Regions from separate parts of the Homo sapiens genome. Here region 2 is linked to region 1. A link means that fine-mapping ties the variant in region 1 to the expression of a gene that starts in the linked region. Tissue or cell type: whole blood. Region 1 holds a variant in brackets; the other region holds the start of a gene. All regions are shown on one strand. Distances are from middle to middle.

Evidence for each region. PIP is the estimated chance that this variant, and not a neighbour inherited with it, causes the effect.
Region 2: ZKSCAN1 starts here. The variant in region 1 is fine-mapped to the expression of ZKSCAN1 in whole blood (INTERVAL, PIP 0.98).

Annotation. Positions count from the first base shown.
Region 1 is chr7:100,034,262-100,042,366 of GRCh38, reverse strand. It overlaps ZKSCAN1 (zinc finger with KRAB and SCAN domains 1), which reads right to left. Exons shown (of 6, transcript NM_003439.4): 6 at 678-8,105. Among named protein-coding and RNA genes, the nearest start is that of ZSCAN21, 11 kb to the left of the region's middle. RefSeq lists enhancers at 4,036-4,535, 4,536-5,037. The variant TTTTTC/C (reference allele first, on the strand shown) is at 3,047.
Region 2 is chr7:100,011,290-100,019,394 of GRCh38, reverse strand. ZKSCAN1 (zinc finger with KRAB and SCAN domains 1) reads right to left here and starts at 3,799. Exons shown (of 6, transcript NM_003439.4): 1 at 3,669-3,799. LOC105375423 (a long non-coding RNA gene) reads right to left here. Exons shown (of 3, transcript NR_159960.1): 3 at 7,761-8,019. RefSeq lists a silencer at 3,544-3,713.

The DNA of each region.
Region 1 (8,105 bases):
ACACAACCTCACATCCTCCCAGTTCACCTTTTTTTTTTTTTTTTTTTTGAGACAAAGTCTCACTCTGTTGCCCAAGCTGGAGTGCAGTGGTGCGATCTCGGCTCACTGCAACCTCCCCCTCCTGGGTTCAAGTGATTCTCCTGGCTCAGCCTCCCGAGTAGCTGGGACTACAGGCGCCCGCCACCACGCCTGGTTAATTTTTGTATTTTTAGTAGAGAGGGGGTTTCACCATGTTGGCCAGGCTGGTTTCGAACTCCTGGCCTCAGGTGATCTGCCTGCCTCGGCCTCCCAAACTGCAGGGATTACAGGCATAAGCCACCATGGCTGGCCATGTCTATCAGTCTTAAAGAGTCTGTTGTTATCAGTAATTCCATATGGGGAGAGGGTATAATGAGGCATGTTTGGCTCCCCCTTCCCATCATGGCCTGAACTAGTTTTTCAGGTTAACTTTGGAATGCCCTTGGCTGAGAGGAGAGGTCCATTCAGGTGACTGGGTGGCCTTTGAAATTTAATTTTGGTTTGCAAAGTAAACAGATAGTTTTGCATGAGAATTTTGTTTGTGGGTTGCAGCTCCAGTCTTTTAACTTTGGAATACTTTTTTTTCTTCACCCCCAATGTGTATTTATGCAACCAAGGATGAGAAAAACAAAGAACAAAAAACAAACCAGCACAAGCACTGCCACCTAGAGATGATAATTTATTGTTTTACCATGACTCAGAAGAGAAACAACATAAAGAGAATATTTCAAATCCCCACAATTTCCTTCCTCAACCTCACTACTCTTAACATTTCTTTATCAGACGCCACTGGCTTCCTAAAATGGACCACTGACTATGTATGTGTACACATTTCATTATGCTGCCTTTTCTCTTATGATTAAAACTTTAGCCCTCATTCGAGGTTTCCAATGGTTACTTTTAGTGGAGGAGTTCCCTAGCTTTTAAAAAACCACTTTTCCTCTAAGATTCCATTATTTATTGAAAGAAGTCTTTCTAGAAATGTTAAGGAGGATTTTAAATGAACACATTCAATTAAAAAAAAAATCACGTATTGAACATCTACCAAGCATCTGGACTCTTCGGAACCTAGTAAAATGAAAAAATCCAGTTTTAACAACAGTAACTTCATTCTGCGGGTATACAGAGACAAGCACGTTTCTTCTTTTGGTCTAATTTATTCTAAACGAAGAAGCTGGGAACTGACAAAACAGGACAGGTTGTTTTTAATCCAGTCTACAAATAAACAAGACAATGCCTGAGTTAGCCCTCTATATAGATTTAGGCTTATGCTGACCTCGTTGTAAAATCTGTATTTAACTAAAAGTTAATAAAAATACATATGTTCATTTTAAAATAATTACTGATTTTGCTTGGCTATCCCACCCCTTACCCCCAAACTCATATATTTTTAGGACAAGATTTTCCTGCATAACCACAACCTGTCTCCTCCCACCCCACCCCCATCATAGATGTTTTCAAATAAGAACCCCTGCGATCAGCAGAAGCATCTCTAATCTAACATGCTTTGTCCTTGCTAGGGCAGGCTAAAAGCTTTAAAAAGCAACCGGATGCTCTTCTCTGGTTGAGGTGAGGGGAAGGCGCTCGGGTACCAACCCCAGCACACCCCAACAGCCTTTCCTCGGCCCCTCCTCAGGCCTCCTAATTACTCTTTCTCAGCCTGGAGTGTGGGGCCGTTACCGTCCTCTTCCCCCTTCTCCTTCCATACTGCACTTAACCTTGCTGGAAGACTTAATGATGGAGATTTAGGGCAACTGTGGCTGCTTGGACCCTTCCCTGGACCAAAGGAACTTAAAACCCAAACCTGACACTGGAATGAAATCCAAGTTTTTAAATATCACCTTTCAATCACTCACAGATCTCACTCTATCTTAAAATACTCAGCCTCACTCCTTAATGAGTGCTTGCTGAAGGGAGAAAATTCCATTTTAAAAACGTATTCACTTTACTGATTACTGTGCAATTTGAATTAAGTCACGATTCTTTAGTAAATGGAGGTGAGAATCTCAGATTCAAATTGTCAGAGACCATGATTTAGAAGTCTACCAAACACCCAGTTTCCTTCCACTGTTTTAGGGTAACAGGAAAACATGAGATTGGGGTGGTGTCCGCTATTAAATGGAACCACACATCATGAAATTCAATTCTCATGTTAAGACATTCTGTATTGTGGGATGTCAAAAGTATTTCCCAAACTTTCGTTTGACCTGCAGAGTTGGAGATGGCTTACCTCCCTATAACTTCAAGTTTGTTTCACAAAGCTTTGAAAAGTAAAACAGATAATTTCATTTTCAGATAATAAAAAATCTGAATAGCAAAATAATTGCTTTTAAATGTAGTGTGTCCACTCTAAAAAAAAAAACCCTAAATCTATGTTAGAAAAACTTTTCAAATAATGCCTTTTATTAAATTCTCCAGTAGTAGTTGAAATAAAAATCTACCCTAATTTCTATGAAATGATCTATTTATATCACTGACTTTTCTTTTTCTCTGATTCTATATTTCATTTAACAATCTGCAGACTTTCACCCCATTTCCCAGATGGGAAAACCCTAGCCCCCTCGTATCTCTGAGAAGTTGCTCAGAGTAGGACACAGAGAAATATGGCCCCCACCCTGGGAAGTACTGCTGTCACTGTTTAAGTGTATTTCAGTTCTGTTACTCCAATTCATACACACAGTCTTCCATGAGGATGGTAGGATGAACCTGGTTAGCTGGCTTTGGATAAGCAGATCAGCATGACTACCTGGAATAAAAGTGACTGACTCTAGGATAAAAATTAAAAAAAGATTCTTTCACAGCAACGAGTCTTTGCAAAACCTCTCTCCTAATAATCACAAACCAGGGGAAGAAAAGTGGGAGCAGGGAACACAGGAACACAGCCAAAGGGAATATTGCAAAATGCTTCCCGAGCTTCATCAGACAGACTTCTTGCAATGCCACGACTGGATGCATCTGCACACAATTCCGGGAAATGCCCACCTTGCTGTTCTCCTATCCCCAATTTTCTTTCTTTCTTTCTTTTTTT[TTTTTC/C]TTTTTTTGAGACAGAGTCTCTGTTACCCAGGCTGGAGTGCAGTGGTGCAATCTCGGCTCACTGCAACCTCTGCCTCCCAGATTTAGGTGATTCTCCTGCCTCAGCCTCCTGAGTAGCTGGGACTACAGGCGCCCACCACCACGCCCGGCTAATTTTTGTATTTTTAGTAGAGACAGGCTTTCACCACGTTGGCCAGGCTGGTCTCAAACTCCTGACCTCAAGTGATCCGCCCACCTCTGCCTCCCAAAGTGCTGAGATTACAGGAGTGAGCCACCGTGCCTGGCCAGTCCTATCCTCCCCCCAACCTTTTTTTTTTTTTTGACATGGAGTCTCACGCCATCACCCAGGCTGGAGTGCAGTGGCGCCATCTTGGCTCACTGCAACCTCCGCCTCCCATGTTCAAGTGATCCTCCTGCCTCAGCCTCCTGAGTAGCTGGGACTACAGGCGCCCGCCACCACGCCCAGCTATTTTTTTGTATTTTTAGTAGAGACGGGGTTTCGCCATGTTAGCCAGGATGGTCTCGATCTCCTGACCTTGTGATCCACCCGCCTTGGTCTCCCAAAGTGCTGGGATTACAGGCCTGAGCCACTGTGCCCAGCCTTATCCTCAATTTTCTAAGCATAAGGATTTAAGAGTTAGTGGGAAAGCATGACTACGGTTTAAAAGAACCTGGTCAGCTGAAGCAGTCCCACTTGGCCATTCCAGTACACTTCCTACTCTCGCTTCATGGAGAAGACCGTCTACTGACAAGAGAATCCATCCCCTTTGCACACAGTGGTCACCTGACAGCTCAGAGGTCAACTTCTTGGTTTTGAGGAAAAATTCAAAAGGCTGCACGTTTAAAGGAGTTGTTCCATTTCAGTGCCCCATTAGCCTGTCTTTCCTCAGAAATTTACCAATCTCTTGATGTGATAAGCACCAAACTATGAAGCTTTTCCCTTCCTCTCCCCGCTGCTCCGTTCTGTGAACCGACTTTTTGTCTACAATCACACTGATTTCTTCACTGTTTGCTCTGAAACTTCACTTTTTCTGAGTGATGTGTTCTGTCAAATAGGCTAAAATAAAATACAGTATCTGCTTACAGGTAATATACGGAACAATAACAAGGGACTGAAGGTACAAAACACACACGGACATTATGGTCATATAAAATATATAGAAGTACCTAACGTTAACAATTTTTGTAAGAAGTTGCACATTTTGCTATTTTTTTAAAGCATTTCCCCACATTTTTTTTCATCTGTAGATCCTCTGCAGTTAAGATTGAGCACCCCCCCGCAACTTTTTTTTTTGATACAGAGCCTCGCTCTGTCACTCAAGGCTGGAGTGCCAGTGGCATGATCTTAGCTCACTGCAACCTCCGCCTCGCAGGTTCAAGCCATTCTCCTGCCTCAGCCTCCCGAGTAGCTGGGACTACAGGCGTGCGCCACTGTGCCCAGCTAATTTTTTTTTGTATTTTTAGTAGAGACAAGGTTTCACCATGTTGGCCAGGCTGGTCTCGAACTACTGACCTCGTGATCCGCCTGCCTCGGCCTCCCAAAGTGCTGCGATTACAGGCGTGAGCCACGGCGCCCGGCCAAGATTGAGCTCCCTCTTGCAATGTTTCTCAAATTCATCACGATTGGAACATACCGACGGAATTCATTTTCTGTCTGAAGCAATGAGTGCTATACATGAAAGTTTTCCTCACATATAATATTCATCAAGTTTATTTACAGTATAAGCTTTCCGATGCTAAGGGCTGAGATGTGATTAAAGGCTTTGCCGTATTCATCACATTCAGGAGGCTCCTTTCTGGAATAAATTCTCTGATGTCTATGTGAACTGTCCCACGTATCACACGTCAACCTCTCTATACATATTTAGCAGTTTCACTTTTATGCCTTTAATATTAAGTGCTTTACATATCAAGATGTCTCATAGATCGATAATCTCAGGTTTTAGCCTTGCCTGCCAGGCTGGAGTAGAAACAAATACCCCACAACCTGAGGATTTTACTTCTCTTCCTGGCAAGGGTAGGGTATATATTGAAAAACTCTTCAAAAATTTCCATTAGGACAACTAGCATGCTAATGGTTAACTGTAGAATGTTTCAACTGTTAACAGACTTCAGCGGGCCAAGAACTTTTGAATGACTATCTTGAACGCCAATTAGATGTTGCAAGCGTTTTTGACCATGACCCAATTACACTTTGCACTGAGCATCTGATAAACGAATGCACTGCAAGTGGTTTTAATAAACAGTTGTAGCCTGTTTTCCTCAGAAAACACATCTTCAAATAGCTGCTTCAAGGACAGCATGTGGCTGAAGATCGAAGCAACCCTAGTGGCAGCTATCCAACAAAGTCAGGAAGATGTCTCCATGAAACGGAATTAAATGTGAGGGCACAGGTCACATTTAACCTTCATTTAAAAACAAAACTCAAAAGTGATGGCTGAGTTATATCAGCATATAGTTGTGGCTGAAAGAAAAAAAAAAACCAAAGGCCAATGTAAACATGACCAAAGTCCTTTCCCTCTTAAAAAATAAGTGCTTGGGTCGTTGCCTGGAGTTCCACACCTCACTTTTCAGTTTCTTTCTTTCTTTTTTTTTTTTTTGAGATGGAGTTTTGCTAGTCACCCAGGCTGGAGTGCAGTGTGCAATCTTGGCTCACTGCAACCTCTGCCTCCTGGGTTCAAGTGATTCTCCTGCCTCAGCCTCCCAAGTAGCTGGGATTACAGGTGCCCACCATCATGCCCGGCTAATTTTTATAATTTTAGTAGAGACGGGATTTTACCATGTTGGCCAGGCTGGTCTCAAAACTCCTGACCTCAGGTGATCCGCTCACCTCGGCCTCCCAAAGTGCTGGGATTACAGGCGTGAGCCACCGCACCTGGCCTCAGTTGCTTTCTAGAGGGCAAAAGTCCTTGCTCAAAAGCACAGGAGTTTTCTACAAAACCATTGCTGTGGCTTATTCTTTGAAGAAAATCCTTAAAACATTTTCTGCCTCCATTTTAGTTACTTAGATATACTCTTCTGGAGTAATGGGTTTTTCTTCCGTTGCATGGGTAGAAATATCCTAGTGACTGGTTGACTTGCAACACGTTTTCCCAAGTAATGCTGATGAAACTGCTTAGAAGCTATAGGGAAGTTGTAGTTGGTTTAAGTCATAAAGCCAAGGAGAGGCCAAAGAATGACCACTGTGCAGTTTTAGCTCCCACTTCGTTGGTTCCATATAAAACCATTTGGTCTCATGGACTTTAGCTGCTGATCAGTGAATGACTGATGAGTAATAGTTTTAGTATAAGTTTCTCAAGGGAAAGTCTCAAACTATATATGGGGTTCTCTTGTTATGGGGAGGTCACACTGATAGTCTTGAGGTTTGTTCTCAGTCTATGTTTCTGTTTCCGCAGGGCGGTCCTAGCCTTGGGTAGGACCCTTGTCCTACTTGAGTGGCGATGACTACTTACACAGCTCACAATCTCCTGTGTGTGAAACAGTCTCCTGCCATCAGCTTCTAGGTAGCCAGTTGCACCCTGCGCACAACGATGGGACCAATGAAAGTTTCATAACCTCACCTCAGTCTTTAGTGATAAGAAACAGAAAAGTCACTGTGCACTATGACGATGGCACAGCCAGCCACATCTCAGTACACTGCTGAGTTTCTCAGAGCAACAAAATACATTTAGTAATTGCCAGTGAACAATTAATGCTTTTGCAAAGTTACTGGAAAAGCGTGGGAAAAAACACTCCCTACCACGTTCCTTTTTCTGAAAAGCAACAAAAATCACATCTTCTGAACTCCAGTATCTAAGTACAAATGATTCAGAAAATCCCCAAATCATCATACTGTTCAGCAGCTAACTGCAAAGAATTCTAAGAGCTTTGCCACAGAAAGATGTCAAAAAAAAAAAATGACCTTCATCAGTGTTCATATTTTTCTTCAAGATGACGATGATAAAGTCATTTCTGACATTCCATGGTATTTACTCACTGTTTAGAAAGTCTATGCAGGCGGCTGACTAGTGCCTTTCGTTTATATTTGGAACAAAAACAGCATCAGACCCTAGAGGTTTAGCATGCCTTGTGGCTACGAAGGTCCTCTTTAGAAGCTGGGCCAGGCTACCATATTTCAGGGACTCACGATTCACAGGCTTTTATCACACACGTAGAAGTCCTGTAGAAGTCAGTCTGAATGAGTGCCTCTTAGGTGTTCAGTACTCACTATGTCCAGCACTGTGCTGGCAGGGATAGAAATATATCCCTTGACAACCGAATCTTTTTTGGGGGTTAGGGGGTGATTAAAAACTTCATACATGAAACAATGAAGGATTAAAAGACAGTATACAATCAAGTGCTAACTTGTGGAGAAATGCATTTAGGAGTGCGATAGTGCTTTAGGGATTTCAAGAAGGGAGAGATGTATTTGGAGTTGTTGTTGCCATTTCAGTAGAACTGATCTCAGGGATGAGGACAGAACCATCTACATTTGTTGCAGTCCTTTGGAACTGTAGACTGGTGCACATACCCTCTCTTTCGGGAAGAGATAGAAATCTTTGGTTTGATACTGATTAGCACAGTCCTAGATTTCTACAGCTTTGGTAGGCTACCAGTGATCATATATACAACTTATCGTATATATAACTACCTTGAGCAGCATGTCCCAATGTCGTTTTTGTTTTCACTGTCCCTCTTTTTTGAGAAATAAGCAGGATGTTGGCCAAAGTAGGGCTTGTTTGCAGCAAGTAGCATCCTAACCTCCGTATCACTTTCGTGGAGCCAATCTTGATCTTTCAACTATTATGTTGTGGTTGCCGAGAGTCCAAGAGTGCCTTAAAGGTATCCTCATTACTGAAAAGACTGACATTTCACTATGCGTGTGCTTTTCTCTTGTGTGGAAATCTCACGTGGATTATCCGTAAGATTAGCCTTTCCCTGCAGGGGCTGTGTGGAAGGATTATATGCCCAACTACTACATAAAGGCAGAACACTGCTGATGTGACTAGAAGGATCCTTAAGTGTGACTTTTGTTTTTTAATCTGTTGAGGCTGTATTTCTTTTTCCCTCCAGGA
Region 2 (8,105 bases), 23 kb after region 1:
GTCTCTACTAAAAATACAAAAATTAGCTGGATGTGTGGCACATACCTGTAATCTCAGCTACTCGGGAGGCTGAGGCAGGAGAATCACTTGAACCTGGGAGGTGGAGGGTGCAGTGAGCTGAGAACGCGCCACTGCACTCCAGCCTGGGTGACAGAGAGAGACTCCTTCTCAAAGAGAAAAAAAAATCACTCAGGAACGGGCCTTATCTACCACCCAGTTTTCACTGGAGGGTCACTATGTGACTGAAGCCCTTCCTGGGAAAGGGAGGAGACACAGCAGAAGATTCAAGTGGGGACTGTCTACAACATAACCAGGTGGGATCTTCAAACATGGTAACTGAGCAGAACTAGTGTGATAGCGAGCCCAGCCACCAGAAATCCCTACTTTTGTGAAAGTTTTATCCTGCCTTAGCTATTGAGCAGGACACTTCTTGGGTCAGTGCGAAGATGCGACTCTAAGGAGGAAATGAGTCCAGGGGGAAATAGACACAGACATGGGCACATTCCCTCTGCCCACAACTGGGACAGATCCTCCTCCTCACCTTCAGTATCTCTCTGCTCCTACTCTGGGGTGCAGGGAAAAGCCATCACAGCAGTGGAAAGGCTGGGTTTTATTTGAGGTTTCCCAGATGATCTGAGCACATACTCTTCTGTCTCTAAAGGCCCTAATACTCTTCACCAAACATTTGCTAGGTAATTTCTCATGATGCGCCGGGCGCAGTGGCTCATGCCTGTAATCCTAGCACTTTGGGAGGCTGAGGTGGGCGGATCACGAGGTGAGGAGATCGAGACCATCCTGGTAACACGATGAAACCCCGTCTCTACTAAAAATATAAAAAATTAGCTGGGTGTGGTGGCGGGCGCCTGTAGTCCCAGCTACTTGGGAGGCTGAGGCAGGAGAATGGCGTGAACCCGGGAGGCTGCGATTGCGCCACTGCACTCCAGCCTGGGTGACAGAGCGAGACTCTGTCTCAAAAAAAAAAAAAAAATTTCTCATGATGTTTCTTTCTCTGTAATTTTTCTTGCCTTCTTCCTCAACTAGATTATTAAGAGCAGTCCTCTTTGTACTCCTTAGACCACTTAGCATGATTCCTTGCAAGCCTCAGTTTCAAAAATACACTTGACTGAATTGACAACGTTACTATTTTTTAAAAGCCCGATCATTCTACATTCAATGTTGCACTCAAATTTGTTCCATGGACTAGTTGGATGAGTTTCAGGTTAGCATTAAAGCTGCTCCACCCCTTACTAGTTGACGGCCTTAGGCAAGTCAACAAGTTAACCTCTCTATGCGTCAGTTTCCTCATCTGTATAATGGGAATAAAAATCAGCATTTGTCCCATAGAGTTGCCGTGAGGATTAAATGAGGTAATAGATATAAAGCACTTAAAATAGTGCCTGGCATTTAGTAGGCACTACAGAAATGTCTTAATTTTTTTCAATAAGCTTAAAAGATGTAACTGTACATTCCAATTTTCAGCCTGCTTAGAAGATTAAGCAATGGGACAACTCCTGTAATAGTGAAAGCTGCACAGGCAATAACTGAATTCTAGTCTCCCACAAGTAAGTGGCACATCCCTGAGAGAGGTATTTAACTTCTCTGGCATTTTGTATCTTTATCAGTCAAATGGGGGTAGGGTGGGGGTTCCAGATAGTAGGAAACTACCTCTGGGTGAATATGGGCTGAAAAACATACTGACATACCATCCACTTTAAATAAAATTACCTCCAGCAGCTAAGGATACCTCAGTTCTCACCTAGGATAAACAGAAATGATTTTCTTAAACAACGGCTTGAAGTTACAAGCTCAAAGGCTGTGTTCCAAACAGCCCAGTATTTTTCCAGGGCATAGTCTTGAAAATGTAAACAAAGGCTGGGCACACAGTGGCTCACGCCCGTAATCCCAGCACTTTGGGAGGCTGAGGTTGGCGGACTGCCTGAGATCAGGCGTTCGAGACCAGCCTGGCCAACATGGCGAAACTCTGTCTCTACTAAAAATACAAAAATCAGCCAAGCCTTGGGACACATGCCTGTAGTCCCAGCTATTCGGGAGGCGGAGGCAGGAGGATCGCTTGAACTCGGGAGGCAGAGGTTGCAGTAAGCCGAGATCGCACCACTGCACTCCAGCCTGGGCGACAGAGCAAGACTCTGTCTCAAAAAAAAAAAAATTTTTTTTTAAATAAATTGCCCTTTGCCCTTTACACTCATTTTTTTAAAGAGCAATCAAATGTTTTAATATGAAAAAGCTACCTTAAAAGACAGCTAGCTATTCAAAGAATATTGATACTCCCACAGAATGAAAATGTTAGATTTAATATGCTATTCATCTGTATTTTAAATGCTTTTAAATCGAGAATGAGCAAAAGACTAAGTAGCTAGCTTCCTCGTTTGTATTTTAAGAGTGGTGAAAACTGCCTGAAATAATAAACAAGAATCTTATATGTTAATTCAGAGAAGATACAAACCTGGATACACATTCTGGGGCAAATCACCATGGTTTCCTATGTAAAACAGCGATTTCTCCACATTTGTTCAGCATATATACTAACAGTGCTTTGCTGATGTGGTTACAATGAATTCTCCACAATTCAATTCAACAAGTATTTATTGACCGCCTCCAATCCGCCTAGCACTGGCCCGTACAATAAATGCTTTCTTTGGTCCCAGGCCATGGAACAGCCACTCTCTATAATGAAAGTATCTTACTGTGTACAGGGGGCACTGCAGGAAAGGGAGGGGAGGGATGGAGGAGTGTCAAGCTAAACTGTAGTTAATTCTTCAATTACATTGACCAAATCATTTCGAAGTCGGAAGGGCCTTTTGAGAAAATCCAGTTAGTTTTTATTGATGACGAAATTAAGACTTGGTGAGTGTCTCGTCTTATCCAAGGTCACTCAGCTAATCAGTCTCCTAGTGACACAGTGCAATTTCCACAAATTCCCTTCACTTCTCACCCCACTCCATGTCAAACAGAGCAACTATCCAGAATTGAAAAATCCACCTAACGTCCCGGACAGCTCTTTTCCAAAGCCTTCAAAGCATTCCATCAAGCTGAAAGAGTGGGGTGTATATAATCTCTACTAGATCCCAATCACCTATTTATCCACTATGACTAGGCTTCAAATACTCTTTAATCACCGCTCAGTGATGAGGGTGGGAGAAGGAAAGGCAGGTCTGGAAACGTATGCGGCACCTCAAAATGTGTCCATCTCTCATCCTTCCGCTCATTTCACCTCGAGGTCCCGAAGGAACCGGGGGGGGAAAAAGACACCTCACCGGAATCAAAGCAAATGGCGACTAAGGGAGAGCAGAAAAATCAAGACCGGGGTCGGTTCGCTCGCGACCCCGTTTGCAGAAACGTCAAAGGGCGATGACGACACTGCGGGAGAGGGGCCCACAGACGGCTTCTCCCCGGGTCTCCGGGCACCCTCAGCCACTGAAACCCTCGCCCCCTCCCCGCCTGATCCTGGGGGTGGGGCGGGGACGTCTCCCAGGAAGAACGGCGCTTTCTACGGCCGGGCCCGGCCAGGAGGCAGGGGCATGGACTCTCTTCGCACAACAGCGGGGCCGCCTGGAGGGGGTCCCAGGGCCGCAGCTGCGGAGCCCACCCTCGCGCACACACCCTTGCGGCCCCGCCCTCCCACCCCAGAGGCCGGCCCCAAGTCTCACCGTGAGCCCCGGGAGCGGCCTGGGGGCGCTGGGCGAGAAAGGGGAGCTGACTCTGGGGCTCAGGCCGGCCGAAGGGCACCGCACACGGACTTAGGCCCTCCCGACGCCTCGACACAGACACAATGAGTCACAAAGGCCGGAAGCGTGTCACCACCTCGTCTTCCGGGACCGCGCCGCGCTTCCGGGTCCTCTCTAGGAGCGCGGGAGGACTTTGCATCTCGGTTTCCGAATCGCTGGACCAGGCGCCTGCCCTTGAGTTTTCAAGCCTCCAGCTTGGAGGATCAGGTCCCAGTCCGCCCCTAGTTAATGCAGGGACTAACGGGAGCAGGTGGTGGGGGGTTTCAGGCTTTCCCCTACTCAAACTCAAACAGACTCTCCAGCTCAGACACCAGTCCATGTGAAAGTTCGATTTCACCTGTCTTTTTCATCTCAGGCAGTCCTTGTAGTAATTATAGTTATTATCAAGCAATATAGTACTTGGTAATTGTATGTCTGTGGCAAAGGAACTGAAACAAGGATGTAGACTGAGGAAGATCAAAGTGAAGCCAAGGGTGGCTGGTTTCCCAAAGCTGCCACGGTAGCTTCTCTCAGGGCCCTGGAGCTATATGGAGTGGTATTTTCAAATACTTGGCCCGTGGACAAGGGATGTCTTTCCACAAGCAAGCATAGTTATAAGGTTCTGTGCTTTGCTCATGTGGCATATGCTATTATAGCCGTTTAAAAGGAGTTTTCAGAGTAACAACAGACACTTTTACCTTCAAAGTGCTTTCACAACCTACCACAGTTACAGCCTTCATCTTTGCCTTGCAGGGTAAGGCACGCATAAGAGGGGGCCACGTTGTGCAAGGGTGGGGGGGACTACAGGCTTTAATGGTTGTGACTTTCCACTATGTTCCGAGACAAGTTCATGGGAGAAACTCAGTAGCTTGGTTGCATGACTCTTACTGCTTGGAGAGATTTACTTTTTTTTTTTAGATGGAGTCTCGCTCTGTCACCCAGCCTGCAGTGCAGTGGCACCATCTTGGCTCACTGCAACCTCCACCTCCCAGGTTCAAGCGATTCTCCTGCCTTAGCCTCCTGAGTACCTGGGACTACAGGCGCACACCACCATGCCTGGTTAATTTTTGTATTTTTGGTAGAGAACAGGGTTTCACCATATTGGCCAGGATGGTCTCGATCTACTGACCTTGTGATCCACCCGCCTCAGCCTCCCAAAGTGCTGGAATTACAGGCGTGAGCCACCGTGCCCGGCCAGATTTACTTTTTAAAAAATGTTTGAAAACTAAAAAGCAATGACAGGGCCAGACACGATGACTCAAGCCTGTAATCTTAGCACTTCGGGAGGCTGGGACGGGAGGATTCTTGAGCCCAAGAGTTGGAGACCAGCCTAAGCAACGTAATGAGACCCTCTCTCTACAAAAAATACTAAAATTAGCTGGGTGCAGGGTAGTGTGTGCCAGTGGTCCCAGCTGCTTGGGAGGCTGAGGTAGAAGGATAGATTGAGCCCAGGAGGTTGAGGCTGCAGTGAGCTATGATTGTGCCATTGCACCCCAGTCTGGGCCACAGAGCAAGATCCCATCTCAAAAAAGAAAAAAAGGGCCGGGCACGGTGGCTCATGCCTGTAATCCCAGCAGTTTGGGAGGCCAAGGTGGGTGGATCACGAAGTCAAGAGATTGAGATCATCCTGGCCCATATGGTGAAACCCCGTCTCTACTAAAAATACAAAAATTAGCTGGGCGTGGTGGCACACGCCTATAGTCCCAGCTACTTGGGAGGCTGAGGCAGGAGAATCGCTTGAACTCCAGAGGCGGAGGCTGCAGTGAGCCGAGATCGTGCCACTGCTCTCCAGCCTGGGGACAGAGCTAGACTCTGTATCCAAAAAAGAAGCAACAACAGTATCATTAAAGGAAATTTGCAAAATGGAGAAAAATAATTACCGGTAATCTCTCCACCCTAACACAATCCCCATGGCTTTAGTTTACCTTTTTCCTGTTTTCATATACAAATAAATATTTATTGATATTATTTTAAACACTGTTCAAAACCATAGTTGCAGTTGTATTGAAGAGGAGGCTGGTATCCTGGAAGTATCTGCTACATTCATATCATGTGAACACTGTTTTTTAAGGAAGAGAAAATATATTTACTATTCAGTAAGTGGAAATAGATCATCATCAAGGTCTTCATACTCATCGTCTTCACACTGAGTAAGCTGAGGAGGAAGAGGAAGGGTTGCTCTTGCTGTCTCAGGGGTGGCAGAGGCAGGAAGTGATCCACCAGCCTCGGCCTCCCAAAGTGCTAGGATTACAGGTGTGAGTCACTGCACCTGGCCTCTTTTCTTTCTTTTTTTTTGAGAGAGTTTCCCTCAGTTGCCATGTTGGAGTGCAATGGCGTGATCTCAGCTCACTGCAACCTCCGCCTCCTGGGCTCAAGTGATTCTCATGCCTCAGCCTCCCAAGTAGCTAGGATTACAGGTGTGCACTCACCATGCCTGGCTAATTTGTGTATTTTTAGTAGAGATGGGGTTTTACCATGTTGGCCATGCTGGTCTCGAACTCCTGGCCTCAAGTGATCCACCCACCTCAGCCTCTCAAAGTGCTGGGATTACAAGTGTGAGCCACCGCGCCTGGCCTCGACATCTTTGATTACTTCCTAAGGATGGATTCCAAGAAATGAGATTACTGGTCCCACAGATAGTCAGAGGGAATATAGGCAATAACGTTTGTAACCCCAGGGTTCTAGACCTGTCAGCAAACAAGCTCAGCTGACAAGATCAGGTGGTATCCACCCAAGAGTTTTGAAAGGACTCTAAGATGAAAGTGTTGAAAGAATCATGAAACTAATGATTTATGATTACAAAGAGACATTGTGCTTAAAAATTGGCTGGCTGCCCTGAACAAATAAAAGTTCCTGAAGGGCACCCTAGAAACTGTGGTTGCCTAAGTTTGACTTCTGTGTTGTGAAAGCTGGTGGAGTCAATGCTGAAGGGGAGCCCGGGTTTGCGGCTGTGACTGGGTGGCTGCAGCTACTCCTGGGAGGGAGGGTCTCCTGTCCCTCCAACTTGGAAGGAGTGGGGGCTTCCATGTGTTCCCAGCTCCCTCCAGCTCTGTGGAGTGCTGCGATCCCAGCTATGCCTCACTCACTGCAGCCAGCATCATGGCAGTGGCCACTCCAGATGGGGTGCTGCTGCCAAGGCGGGCAGATCACCTGAGGTCAGGAGCTCGGGACCAGCCTGACCAACACGGAGAAACCCCGCCTCTACTAAAAATACAAAATTAGCTGGGCATGGTGGTGCATGCCTGTAATCCCAGCTACTCAGTAGGCTGAGGTAGGAGAATCGCTTGAACCCAGGAGGCAGAGGTTGCGGTGAGCCGAGATTGAACCATTGCACTCCAGCCTGGGCAATAAGAGCGAAACTCTGTCTTAAAAAAAACAAAACAAAACAAAAAAAACAAACCCAAGTCTTATATCTGATTCCAAAGGTCCCATTTTACTGAGTCTTCTTCTTTCTTCTTGACGGAGTTTTTGCTTTTGTCACCGAGGCTGGGATCACTGCAACCTCCGCCTCCCAGGTTCAAGCGATTCTCCTGCCTCAGCCTCCCACGTAGCTGGGATTAAAGGCGTGTGCCACCTGCCTGACTAGTTTTTGTATTTGTAGTAGAGATGGGATTTTGCCATGTTGGCCAGGCTGGTGTCGAACTCCTGACCTCCAGCGATCCGCCCACCTCGGCCTCCCAAAGTGTTGGGATTATAGGCGTGAGCCACCGTGCCCAGCCTGAGTTTTCTTTACTGTCGGCTAGGGCTGTGGCTGGGGAACCTGCTGTGGGAAGGGTACTTTCATCTATGCTTTTCCTCCTCCCCTTCCCTCTCCCTGGGGTGGCAGGAGTGAGTGATCTGACTGTTGGAGACACCTTCCCTCTCTATTTTCCTATTGGAAGCTGTGGCTTCTCTGTTGTGTTGAGCAAAGTGGACGGATAGGGAGAGGGTCAAAAATCTCTTACTTAACTGACTATTCTCTCCTGTTGGTTGTTGCTCTTCCCTCGGTAACACAGTGTTCCAGCTACTTAAGCAGCAAAACAAATTATTCAACAATTTCGTGGGTGAAAGCAATGACAACATTGTTTATTTTGCTCCTAAATCTTCCATTTGGTGGAGGGATCCACATGGATGGCTCATCTATGCTCCACCTGGCTCCTCTGGGGGGCCTCAAAGGTTGGACCATCTGAAGGCTCGCCAGCTCCTAAGATTGGTGATTGGTCTGGCTGTCAGCGGAGATCTTAGCTGGGGCAGTGGATCTGAACATGTGCAGGTGGTCTCTTCATGTGCTCTGGGCTTCCTCACAGGATGGTGGCTGGGGTCCAAGGACAAGTATCCAGAGAGAGAGAGAGGAGGAAGGAAGGAAGGAAGGAAGGAAAGGGAAGGGAAGGGAAGGAAGGA